Homo sapiens: one gene and its partners. The protein of the gene in region 3 purifies or fractionates together with the protein of the main gene of each other region. This does not show direct contact. Each region holds a gene or a part of one and is shown on either strand. Other genes may lie near its edges. The genes, in order: SCAF1, SRBD1 and ZBTB48.

Evidence for each region.
Region 1: the proteins of ZBTB48 (region 3) and SCAF1 purify together in Homo sapiens (affinity purification with mass spectrometry; 2 studies listed by BioGRID and IntAct, with this or other methods). This does not show direct contact.
Region 2: the proteins of ZBTB48 (region 3) and SRBD1 purify together in Homo sapiens (affinity purification with mass spectrometry; 2 studies listed by BioGRID and IntAct, with this or other methods). This does not show direct contact.

Annotation. Positions count from the first base shown.
Region 1 is NC_000019.10:49,652,159-49,655,903, forward strand, and holds part of SCAF1 (splicing factor, arginine/serine-rich 19), read left to right. Parts: coding exon 1-1,547; intron 1,548-2,190; coding exon 2,191-2,273; intron 2,274-2,493; coding exon 2,494-2,712; intron 2,713-3,745.
Region 2 is NC_000002.12:45,604,644-45,608,388, forward strand, and holds part of SRBD1 (S1 RNA-binding domain-containing protein 1), read right to left. Parts: intron 799-3,745; coding exon 719-798; intron 1-718.
Region 3 is NC_000001.11:6,578,111-6,581,855, forward strand, and holds the start of ZBTB48 (zinc finger and BTB domain-containing protein 48), read left to right. Parts: upstream 1-1,883; 5' UTR 1,884-2,026; exon of another isoform or gene 2,027-2,430; 5' UTR 2,431-2,499; coding exon 2,500-3,189; intron 3,190-3,745. Other genes in the region: TAS1R1 (taste receptor type 1 member 1 isoform b precursor), read left to right, coding at 543-1,474. UniProt on the Homo sapiens protein: Plays a critical role in transcriptional regulation and chromatin remodeling. Acts as a regulator of telomere length. Directly binds the telomeric double-stranded 5'-TTAGGG-3' repeat.

The DNA of each region.
Region 1 (3,745 bases), on a different chromosome or scaffold from region 3:
CGACCGCCGCCGCGGGGGCAGCCGCAGGTCGCGGTCCCGGGAGAAGCGGCGACGGCGGCGGCGCTCCGCCTCCCCGCCCCCGGCCACTTCCTCATCGTCGTCCTCGAGGCGCGAGCGGCACCGCGGGAAACACCGGGACGGTGGCGGCAGCAAGAAGAAGAAGAAGCGGTCGCGGTCCCGGGGTGAGAAGCGGTCTGGGGATGGCAGCGAGAAGGCCCCGGCGCCCGCCCCGCCGCCCTCTGGCTCCACCTCGTGTGGTGACCGCGACAGCCGCCGCCGGGGGGCCGTGCCACCCTCCATCCAGGACCTCACGGACCACGACCTCTTCGCCATCAAGCGGACCATCACGGTGGGCCGGCTTGACAAGTCCGACCCCCGAGGACCCTCTCCTGCTCCGGCCTCCTCACCTAAGCGGGAGGTCCTGTACGACTCCGAGGGACTGAGCGGCGAGGAGCGGGGCGGCAAGAGCAGCCAGAAGGATCGGCGCCGCTCGGGGGCCGCCTCCTCCTCCTCCTCTTCCCGGGAGAAGGGGTCTCGTCGGAAGGCGCTGGACGGGGGTGACCGGGATCGGGACAGGGACAGAGATAGGGACAGGGACAGGTCATCCAAGAAGGCCCGGCCCCCCAAGGAGTCGGCGCCTTCCTCAGGGCCCCCGCCAAAGCCACCAGTCAGCAGCGGCTCAGGCTCTTCATCCTCGTCGTCCTCCTGTTCTTCCCGGAAGGTGAAGCTGCAGTCCAAGGTGGCGGTGCTGATCCGCGAGGGTGTCAGCAGCACCACCCCGGCCAAGGATGCCGCGTCAGCCGGCCTGGGCTCCATTGGCGTCAAATTCAGCCGTGACCGCGAGAGTCGCTCCCCCTTCCTCAAACCTGACGAGCGGGCCCCCACTGAGATGGCCAAAGCAGCTCCGGGCAGCACCAAGCCCAAAAAGACCAAGGTCAAGGCCAAGGCAGGGGCCAAGAAAACCAAGGGGACCAAGGGAAAGACCAAGCCATCCAAGACCAGGAAAAAGGTCCGCAGTGGAGGTGGCAGCGGGGGCAGTGGTGGCCAGGTGTCGCTGAAGAAGTCCAAGGCGGATAGCTGCAGCCAGGCGGCAGGCACCAAGGGGGCGGAGGAGACTTCCTGGTCCGGGGAGGAGCGGGCAGCCAAGGTTCCTAGCACCCCGCCCCCCAAGGCAGCCCCACCACCCCCTGCCCTCACTCCGGACTCGCAGACCGTGGACAGCAGCTGCAAGACACCTGAGGTCTCCTTCCTGCCCGAGGAGGCCACTGAGGAGGCTGGGGTCCGAGGTGGGGCGGAGGAGGAGGAGGAGGAAGAAGAAGAGGAGGAGGAAGAGGAAGAGGAGGAGGAGCAGCAGCCTGCTACCACCACGGCCACCAGCACTGCTGCAGCCGCCCCAAGCACTGCCCCCAGCGCGGGGTCCACAGCCGGTGACTCGGGGGCGGAGGACGGGCCAGCTTCCCGTGTCTCCCAGCTGCCCACGTTGCCCCCGCCCATGCCCTGGAATCTGCCAGCTGGTGTGGACTGCACCACCAGCGGCGTCCTGGCCTGTGAGTGTCCCCTGGGGGAGGGTGGTGCTGGGGCAGGTGAGACAGGATGGGGACTGGAGGGTACAGACTTAGAGGCAGTGGGGTGCCCTGGCAGGGAGAGGTTTATAGGGACATAGACTGGGAGGGTGGGGGTGAGTAAAGGCCAGCCAGGCTCTAGGTGCCTGGGTGTACTGGGAGAGAGGGGCCGGTGAGAGCAGGTGGTGGCCAGCACAGACTGGAGTGGTGGGCTGGGTTCTGGGATTCCCCTAGACGGGGAGTAGGAGAGAGGGACCAGAAAGAATGGCTTGAGCAGGGCATCGTATTCCTTACGGATGGCGGTTGCCTCTACCAGACTGCAGAGGTGGGGAGAGAGGTTGGGACTGGCCACAGCGGGTCAGGAGGCAGAATCTCACTCCTGCCACTGTCTCATCACTGCATGACCCTGGCCAACCCCGCACCCACACACCTGGAGTCCCAAGAACATTCGTGGTATGGGCTGTTCTCTCATTGGCCAAGGCCCCCTTTTCCCAGTTCTGAGCGTGAGGCTTTGTGGCTGTTCTGGGGCCAAGGGCAGGAGATGACAGCAGGTGTCCAGGTGAGGTTCACCAGCTCCTGTCCTGTCACCTCTCCCATCTTCATGTTGTCACCTCTCTGCCTCCTGCAGTGACTGCACTTCTCTTCAAGATGGAAGAAGCCAACCTGGCGAGCCGAGCGAAGGCCCAGGAGCTGATCCAGGCCACCAACCAGGTGGGCTCCCCTGGGGGAGAGTCCCTGCCGCCCCTTCTTTTGTCCATTGCCTCGGGTTAGGAGAGGAACCGCGGGCCTGGCAGCTCTGGGGCAAGGTATCGGCCTGAAGAGGAGCCTGTTGCCTCAGCTGTGGGGAAGTCAGCGTGGGAACAGTGGGGTGCACGTCCCCTCTTCCCCTCCACCTCCCTTTACTCATCACCCCTCTGTCCTCGTCCCACAGATCCTCAGCCACAGAAAGCCACCCTCAAGTCTGGGGATGACCCCAGCTCCTGTGCCCACCTCTTTGGGTCTGCCCCCTGGCCCCTCCAGCTACCTGCTTCCTGGCAGCCTCCCTCTGGGGGGCTGCGGTTCGACCCCCCCCACCCCCACCGGGCTGGCTGCCACGTCTGACAAGAGAGAGGGCAGCAGCAGCTCTGAGGGCCGTGGGGACACAGATAAGGTGAGCTGGCCTGGGGAGAGGTGGGGCGGTGCTGACAGTTCTGTAGAGAATATGGACAGGAACTGAGACGCGGGGGCCCAAGGAGAAAGGGAGACTGAGGCAGGGAGACAGGGCCGTAGAGACCAAAGTCATGGAACCATAAGGAACTCCACTTTGCTGGAATGGGTGAGCAGGAAATGCGTTAGGCGTGTCCAAAGGAAAATCGCGTCTGTGCGTGTGTGGGGCTGTGTGCGTACACACCACATATACACACCCTGGAAGAGATGCCCCGCGCTGCAGCCCACCCCTTGATTATCTGTTGCTCGCGCTGTCTCCGTCTCTGTGAGTGGGGGAGGGTGGTTTCCGAATGAAAACTCAAGAACCTGTTTGTAGATGAAGCAGGGGAGAATGGGTGCCAGGCAGACAGTAATGTAGGTTCTTACTCAGCTGCTCTGGCCGGCTCCTACTCCTGGGCTCTGGAGCTGTTTCTCTCTTGGTCAGGTCTAGATGTGGGTTTTTGTTTTTGTTTTTCTTTGAGATGGAGTCTTGCTCTGTCACCTGGTCTGGAGTGCAATGGTGCCATCTCGGCTCACTGCAGCCTCCGCCTCCAGGGTTCAAGTGATTCTCCTACCTCAGCCTCCCGAGTAGCTGGGATGACAGGCACCCGCCACCACACCCAGCTAATTTTTGTATTTTTAGTAGAGACGGCATTTCACCACGTTGGCCAGGCTGGTCTTGACTCCTGACCTCAGGTGATCTGCCAGCCTCGGCCTCCCAAAGTGCAGGGATTACAGGTGTGAGCCACCGTGCCCGGCCTTGGTTGGTTGGTTTTTGAGACAGGGTCTCGCTTTGTCACCCAAGCTGGCATGCAGTGGCACAGTCACAGCTCACTGTAGCCTCAGCCTTGATCTCTCGGGCTCAAGGGATCCTCCTACGTCAGCATCCTGTGTAGCTAGGACTACAGGCACGCGCCACCATGCCCAGCTCATTTCTTAATTTTTTGTAGAGTTGGGGTCTCACTATGTTGCCCAGGCTGGTCTCAAATTCCTGAGCT
Region 2 (3,745 bases), on a different chromosome or scaffold from region 3:
GAACACCCATCCCCAAGATCTTTGCAAGCTGCACCCCCAAATCTCATCTAGATCTCTTGCCACATCTTCCGCAATAACTTTCTGACTACTCTATCCAAAATGCCCCCCGACTGCAACCACTCACTATGCTCTCTATCCCCTGCCCTGTTTTATTTTTCTTTATAGTACTTATTACTATAAATATTACCAGTCATTTACTTAACAAATATCTTCAGAGCACCTAATATGACTCTAAAGCAGAGATTCTCAACTGGGGATATCTAGCAATGTCTAGAGACATTTTTAATTGTTATAACTTAGCAGGAAGCTATTGGCATCCAGTGGGTAGAGGCCAAGGATGCTGCTAAAAATCCTACAAGAAAAAAGATAGCCCCCACAACAAAGAATTGTCTTGCACACAATGTCAGTAGTGCAGAGGTTGAAAAATCCTGCTCTAAAGCAATATATAAAACTCTATGCTCTCATGGAGCTTATATTCTAGTGTAAGTATTATGTTACATATTTAGTTGGTTACTTTCTCTCTCCTTTCGATACTTTATTAGCAACACTAGACAGAACCTGGAACACAGCATGAGTTCAACAAATACTTGTTGCATGAATGAATAAAAAAAGTTTTTTCTACCCACATCACTTAAGGAGTTAGAAAGTGACAGAATGCATTACTCCTTATTAAAATATTCATCATTCCCCTACCCACATATTAAACCAGTATGCTTACAACTCAGAGAATGAAGAAAATTCATCTTTCAGTACCACATCCTGGACCTGTACTTTCGCTCTTCTTGGCAATGATGACATCTAGAAGAAACAGAAAATAAAATCAGCAACACTTGAATATTCTTATCACTTTATTTGGCTACAAGTAATGGGTCATTCAAAACTAACATTTCATAGGAAAAAAACAAAAACAATGATGTTTATTCACAAGCCCAAACATCAGTTTCCTCTGCTATGTAGCTGCCAATTAAAAGAGTAGCTGGCTGGGCACCATGGCTCATGCCTGTAATCCCAGCACTTTGGGAGGCCAAGGAGGGCGGATCACCTGAAGTCAGGAGTTCGAGACCAGCCTGGCCAACATGGTGAAACTCAGTCTCTACTAAAAATAGAAAAATTAGCCAGGTGTGGTCGTGGGCACCTGAAATCCCAGCTACTGGGGAGGCTGAGGCAGAAGAATCACTTGAACCCAGGAGGTGGAGGTTGCAGAGAGCTGAGATTGCATAATTGCACTCCAGCCTGGGCAACAGAGTGAGACTCGGTCTCAAAAAAAAAAAAAAAAGAAAAAAAAAGAGTAGCTAACAGCCTTCCAATGGTTTAAAACTCTTAAGAGTATGGGCCATCTTTTAAAAAATATAAACTCCTACAGGGTGACACCTGTAGGAAAACTGTGTGCTTCATTTTTTAAGAATTGTGTGCTTAAGTATTCTGTGTTATTTTATGGTAATAATATCAGGCAGCCCCTTACAAAGTCCTTTATTAAACTATATCTCAAAGACAGAAACATTTTTTTCCTATTCTTTTTTTTTTTTTTTTTTTGAGACAGAGTTTCGCTCTTGCTGTCCAAGCTGGAGTGCAATGGCACGATATTGGCTCACCACAACCTCCGCCTCCTGGGTTCAAGCGATTCTCCTGCCTCAGCCTCCCTAGTAGCTGGGATTACAGGCATGCGCCAACACACCCGGCTAATTTTGTATTTTTTAGTAGAGACAGCATTTCTCCATGTTGGTCAGGCTGGTCTTGAACTCCCGACCTCAGGTGATCCGCCCACCTCGGCCTCCCAAAGTGCTGGGATTACAGGCATGAGTCACTGTGCCCAGCCTATTCTATATATTCTTAATGAATAAAGTAGAGGTCTCTCTACAAAGTTGGCAATGAAATAAATGATGCTGATTGACTGAGTAAGCAGCCAGGTTATTCTTAAAACAAGATAATCATTCCCTTATAATAAAAGTTCATTAAACTTAAATAAAATGATTAATCACTATGTGACTAAAAACTATTTACCAAATTCGAAGGCCAAGCTGTAAAAAAAAGTTAAGACAAATAACCAGAGACATCACATAATACGGGAAAGTAAATAAAATTACTTTAGCTGTTAAGATTAATTAGCTGTTAAAATTAATTAATAAAGGACTTTATAAGTGGCTGCCTGATATTATTACCATAAAACCATCAAACTATAAGGACTACACTAGGCTCTGACATGTTTGGAACCCTTTAAACAAGTTTCTGACCCAGTCATATGTTATAATGCCTCTGGTTCTAACATCCGCTTAGAAGAGGAAATAATCTCTCATGGAAATACTAAAGGGGTTGTCACAAAAGGGAATATGTTCTCCCAGCAGCTATAGCTCAACTCAGTCCAGTAAGTACACAATGATTGGGCAAAATAGTGCTCAGAGGGAACCAAAAGAACAACAGGAAAGCAGTCTGCAGGAAGTAGACAGGATAATCTTCCATCTTTCCCTTCACTCTCTTTTTGGCATATTAGGTTATAAAGATCATCCTTTCTCAAATTAGTATTTTTTAGACATTGATCATGAAAGAACAGGTAATTGTGATTTTTATATTATGTGTATCTTACCACAACAAAATAAGAATGGAGGAAGTTAGTGTATGACAAGGGTGGCATTTAAAATCAGGGCAGGGTAAAAATGGATTATTCAATAAATGGTATTGAGACAACTAGCTATTCCTCTAGAAGAAAAAAAGGAGTTTAATTCCTACCTCCACACCATTAACAAAAATTTATTCCCCAATAACTAATAGTTTAAAATGTACAAATTAAAACTATAAAAGAACTAAGAAATAAAGGTGATTCTTTTCACACTATTGAGGGGAGATGGGGAAATGGAGGTTTTCCTAAATATGACTCCTCAAAATTCCAAAACCAAAAAGACTAACAAATTGCAACACATAAAAATTAAAATCCCAAGCCAGTAGTGGGAGCATATGAGAACCAAACCAATTTACCCTGCAGTATTCTAAAAAAAAAAAATTCATATGAAGCAGTAGCTGATACCTTTGGAATTAAAGGTGAAACGGGTTAGGGCTGTGTATAAACTGACAAAGGAATATCTCTAAGTGTCCTACCTCACTTCATGCTATTAGGCAACTGCCCCAGGAAAAAGACTGTAAGTTTATTCTCTGGAGAAGGTATTAATGAAACAGTCTAGACTGTGGGCATGGGAACCATACAGACTGAATGCTAAAGGCAGAGAACCCTAGTCTTCCGCCACTAAATTCCTAAAATACTGCCCTCTAGGGAGGAGAATGGGAAGGCTTTTCTCTGGAGAATCTAACCAGTCCAAGAGTAAAAACTTGAAGGTGCTAAGCTTCCCATCAAACAACCCACCCAGATCACCTTACAATCACTCCTACCACCACATTCTACAATATGCCTGAATTCAGAACATTCCCACACAGACTACCATATACTAATTCTATCTCCACACTTCAGCCTTAACAGAAATGTGTTTAAAATAGGGACAGGCAAACCCTTGGCAGGCTTATGTTTTTGCTTAACCATTATCCTTAAAGAAGGCTCCCCTAAATCAAATATTTCCAACTGCCTCTTTATAAGGCACCCCGAAAGCAATATACCATGGAAAGATGAGTGAGTTGTAATATTTCTTTTCACAAATGTTAAAAATATCAATGTAAAAGGAAAGGTGGGAAAGCAGAATCTGCATGAACACACAAGCCAATTTCAAGCAGATCAGATTTAGAAAGAATATATACAAAAGCT
Region 3 (3,745 bases):
GCAAGGTCAAGAACAGAGAGCAAATTAGGTAGCTAAGGACTCAGGTCCTTAGTTGGTGTCCAGGGGCCACATTCTTTCCTTTCACCATCTCTGTAGGGACAGGAATACTTCCCTTCTGTCCTCAGAGGGTCAGGACTCAGAGAAACCACAGAGCAGCAGCTCAGGAAAGTGGTTCATGGAAATGCTGGCAAGAGAGAGGGGTTACAATGCCCTCCCTTGGGAGCAGGCTGCTCCCATCAGATCGTAACCTCTCTGGTATGTGGGCAGAGCTACCAGGTTAAGGTCCTCCCTAGGGTTTGCAAAACCCTCATGGGATCATGAGCCATACAGAACCGACCTGTGTGTCTCCAGAGTCTGTAATTAACACAGGCATTTTGAGGAAATGCGTGGCCTCAGGCCCCACTCCCGGCTACCCCCATCCCACTATGCCTAGTATAGTCTAGCTGCCCTGGTACAATTCTCCCAGTATCTTGCAGGCCCCTATTTCCTATTCCTACTCTGCTCATCTGGCTCTCAGGAACCTTCTTGGCCTTCCCTTTCAGACCTCTACAGATGCCAGCCTTGTGGGAAAGAAGAGTGGGCACCTGAGGGAAGCCAGACCTGCTTCCCGCGCACTGTGGTGTTTTTGGCTTTGCGTGAGCACACCTCTTGGGTGCTGCTGGCAGCTAACACGCTGCTGCTGCTGCTGCTGCTTGGGACTGCTGGCCTGTTTGCCTGGCACCTAGACACCCCTGTGGTGAGGTCAGCAGGGGGCCGCCTGTGCTTTCTTATGCTGGGCTCCCTGGCAGCAGGTAGTGGCAGCCTCTATGGCTTCTTTGGGGAACCCACAAGGCCTGCGTGCTTGCTACGCCAGGCCCTCTTTGCCCTTGGTTTCACCATCTTCCTGTCCTGCCTGACAGTTCGCTCATTCCAACTAATCATCATCTTCAAGTTTTCCACCAAGGTACCTACATTCTACCACGCCTGGGTCCAAAACCACGGTGCTGGCCTGTTTGTGATGATCAGCTCAGCGGCCCAGCTGCTTATCTGTCTAACTTGGCTGGTGGTGTGGACCCCACTGCCTGCTAGGGAATACCAGCGCTTCCCCCATCTGGTGATGCTTGAGTGCACAGAGACCAACTCCCTGGGCTTCATACTGGCCTTCCTCTACAATGGCCTCCTCTCCATCAGTGCCTTTGCCTGCAGCTACCTGGGTAAGGACTTGCCAGAGAACTACAACGAGGCCAAATGTGTCACCTTCAGCCTGCTCTTCAACTTCGTGTCCTGGATCGCCTTCTTCACCACGGCCAGCGTCTACGACGGCAAGTACCTGCCTGCGGCCAACATGATGGCTGGGCTGAGCAGCCTGAGCAGCGGCTTCGGTGGGTATTTTCTGCCTAAGTGCTACGTGATCCTCTGCCGCCCAGACCTCAACAGCACAGAGCACTTCCAGGCCTCCATTCAGGACTACACGAGGCGCTGCGGCTCCACCTGACCAGTGGGTCAGCAGGCACGGCTGGCAGCCTTCTCTGCCCTGAGGGTCGAAGGTCGAGCAGGCCGGGGGTGTCCGGGAGGTCTTTGGGCATCGCGGTCTGGGGTTGGGACGTGTAAGCGCCTGGGAGAGCCTAGACCAGGCTCCGGGCTGCCAATAAAGAAGTGAAATGCGTATCTGGTCTCCTGTCGTGGGAGAGTGTGAGGTGTAACGGATTCAAGTCTGAACCCAGAGCCTGGAAAAGGCTGACCGCCCAGATTGACGTTGCTAGGCAACTCCGGAGGCGGGCCCAGCGCCAAAAGAACAGGGCGAGGCGTCGTCCCCGCATCCCATTGGCCGTTCTCTGCGGGGCCCCGCCCTCGGGGGCCGGAGCTAGAAGCTCTACGCTTCCGAGGCGCACCTCCTGGCCTGCACGCTTTGACGTCACGTCCGGCGCGGAGACGGTGGAGTCTCCGCACTGTCGGCGGGGTACGCATAGCCGGGCACTAGGTTCGTGGGCTGTGGAGGCGACGGAGCAGGGGGCCAGTGGGGCCAGCTCAGGGAGGACCTGCCTGGGTGAGGAGGGCGCGGGGTGAGGGAGGGAGGGGCTGCGGGCCGCCGTGGCTGCCTTCCGCTCGGCCGCTCGGGACCTGTGGGCGCGGCGTGGGCTTCGCTCACCTGTCCCCGGCTGCCGCCCTCCGCCGTCCGGGATCCTCTCACTGTGCCGGGCCAGTCCGTTCGCTCTCATCCCATGTCTCCTTTCCCCAAACTTGGATTTTTCTCACCAGGCCCTTCTTCACGACCCTGGCCCCCCATCCAGCATCCCCCCTGGCCAATCCAATATGGCCCCCGGCCCCCGGGAGGCTGTCAGTGTGTTCCAGCCCTCCGCGTGCACCCCTCACCCTGACCCAAGCCCTCGTGCTGATAAATATGATTATTTGAGTAGAGGCCAACTTCCCGTTTCTCTCTCTTGACTCCAGGAGCTTTCTCTTGCATACCCTCGCTTAGGCTGGCCGGGGTGTCACTTCTGCCTCCCTGCCCTCCAGACCATGGACGGCTCCTTCGTCCAGCACAGTGTGAGGGTTCTGCAGGAGCTCAACAAGCAGCGGGAGAAGGGCCAGTACTGCGACGCCACTCTGGACGTGGGGGGCCTGGTGTTTAAGGCACACTGGAGTGTCCTTGCCTGCTGCAGTCACTTTTTCCAGAGCCTCTACGGGGATGGCTCAGGGGGCAGTGTCGTCCTCCCTGCTGGCTTCGCTGAGATCTTTGGCCTCTTGTTGGACTTTTTCTACACTGGTCACCTCGCTCTCACCTCAGGGAACCGGGATCAGGTGCTCCTGGCAGCCAGGGAGTTGCGAGTGCCAGAGGCCGTAGAGCTGTGCCAGAGCTTCAAGCCCAAAACTTCAGTGGGACAGGCAGCAGGTGGCCAGAGTGGGCTGGGGCCCCCTGCCTCCCAGAATGTGAACAGCCACGTCAAGGAGCCGGCAGGCTTGGAAGAAGAGGAAGTTTCGAGGACTCTGGGTCTAGTCCCCAGGGATCAGGAGCCCAGAGGCAGTCATAGTCCTCAGAGGCCCCAGCTCCATTCCCCAGCTCAGAGTGAGGGCCCCTCCTCCCTCTGTGGGAAACTGAAGCAGGCCTTGAAGCCTTGTCCCCTTGAGGACAAGAAACCCGAGGACTGCAAAGTGCCCCCAAGGCCCTTAGAGGCTGAAGGTGCCCAGCTGCAGGGCGGCAGTAATGAGGTACTGTGCCCAGGGTGTTGGGACTGGGGAGACAAATAGAGGGAATAGACACTTTTTTGGTATAATAGGGACCCTGGGCTGGGTGTGATGGCTCACTCACGCCTGTAATCCTAGCACTTTGGGAGGCCAAGGGGGGTGGATCACTTTAGCTTGGGAGTTCGAGACCAGCCTGGGCAACATGGCGAGGCCTCATTTGTACAAAGACTATACAAAAATTAGCCGGGTGTGGTGGCACACACCTGTAGTCCTAGCTACTCAGGAGGGTGAGGTGGGAGGATCACTTGAGCCCAGGAAGTGGAGGTTGCAGTGAGCTGAGATGGTGCCACTACCCTCCAGCCTAGGCGACAGAGCAAGATCCTGTCTCAAAAAAAAAAAAAAAATATGTGGACCTTAAGACAATCTCTGTTAATGTGGGTTTGGAACAGGCTTTCTCCAAAGGAAGCTGGTGACCTCAGGCTGACCTTTCTGCAAGCCCCAGCTGTTCACGGTTGCCACCTTCCTGAGAGGAGTGGGCAGCATCAGGGTTACAGGTGTTTCCCCAGGGCAGTGTTTCCAG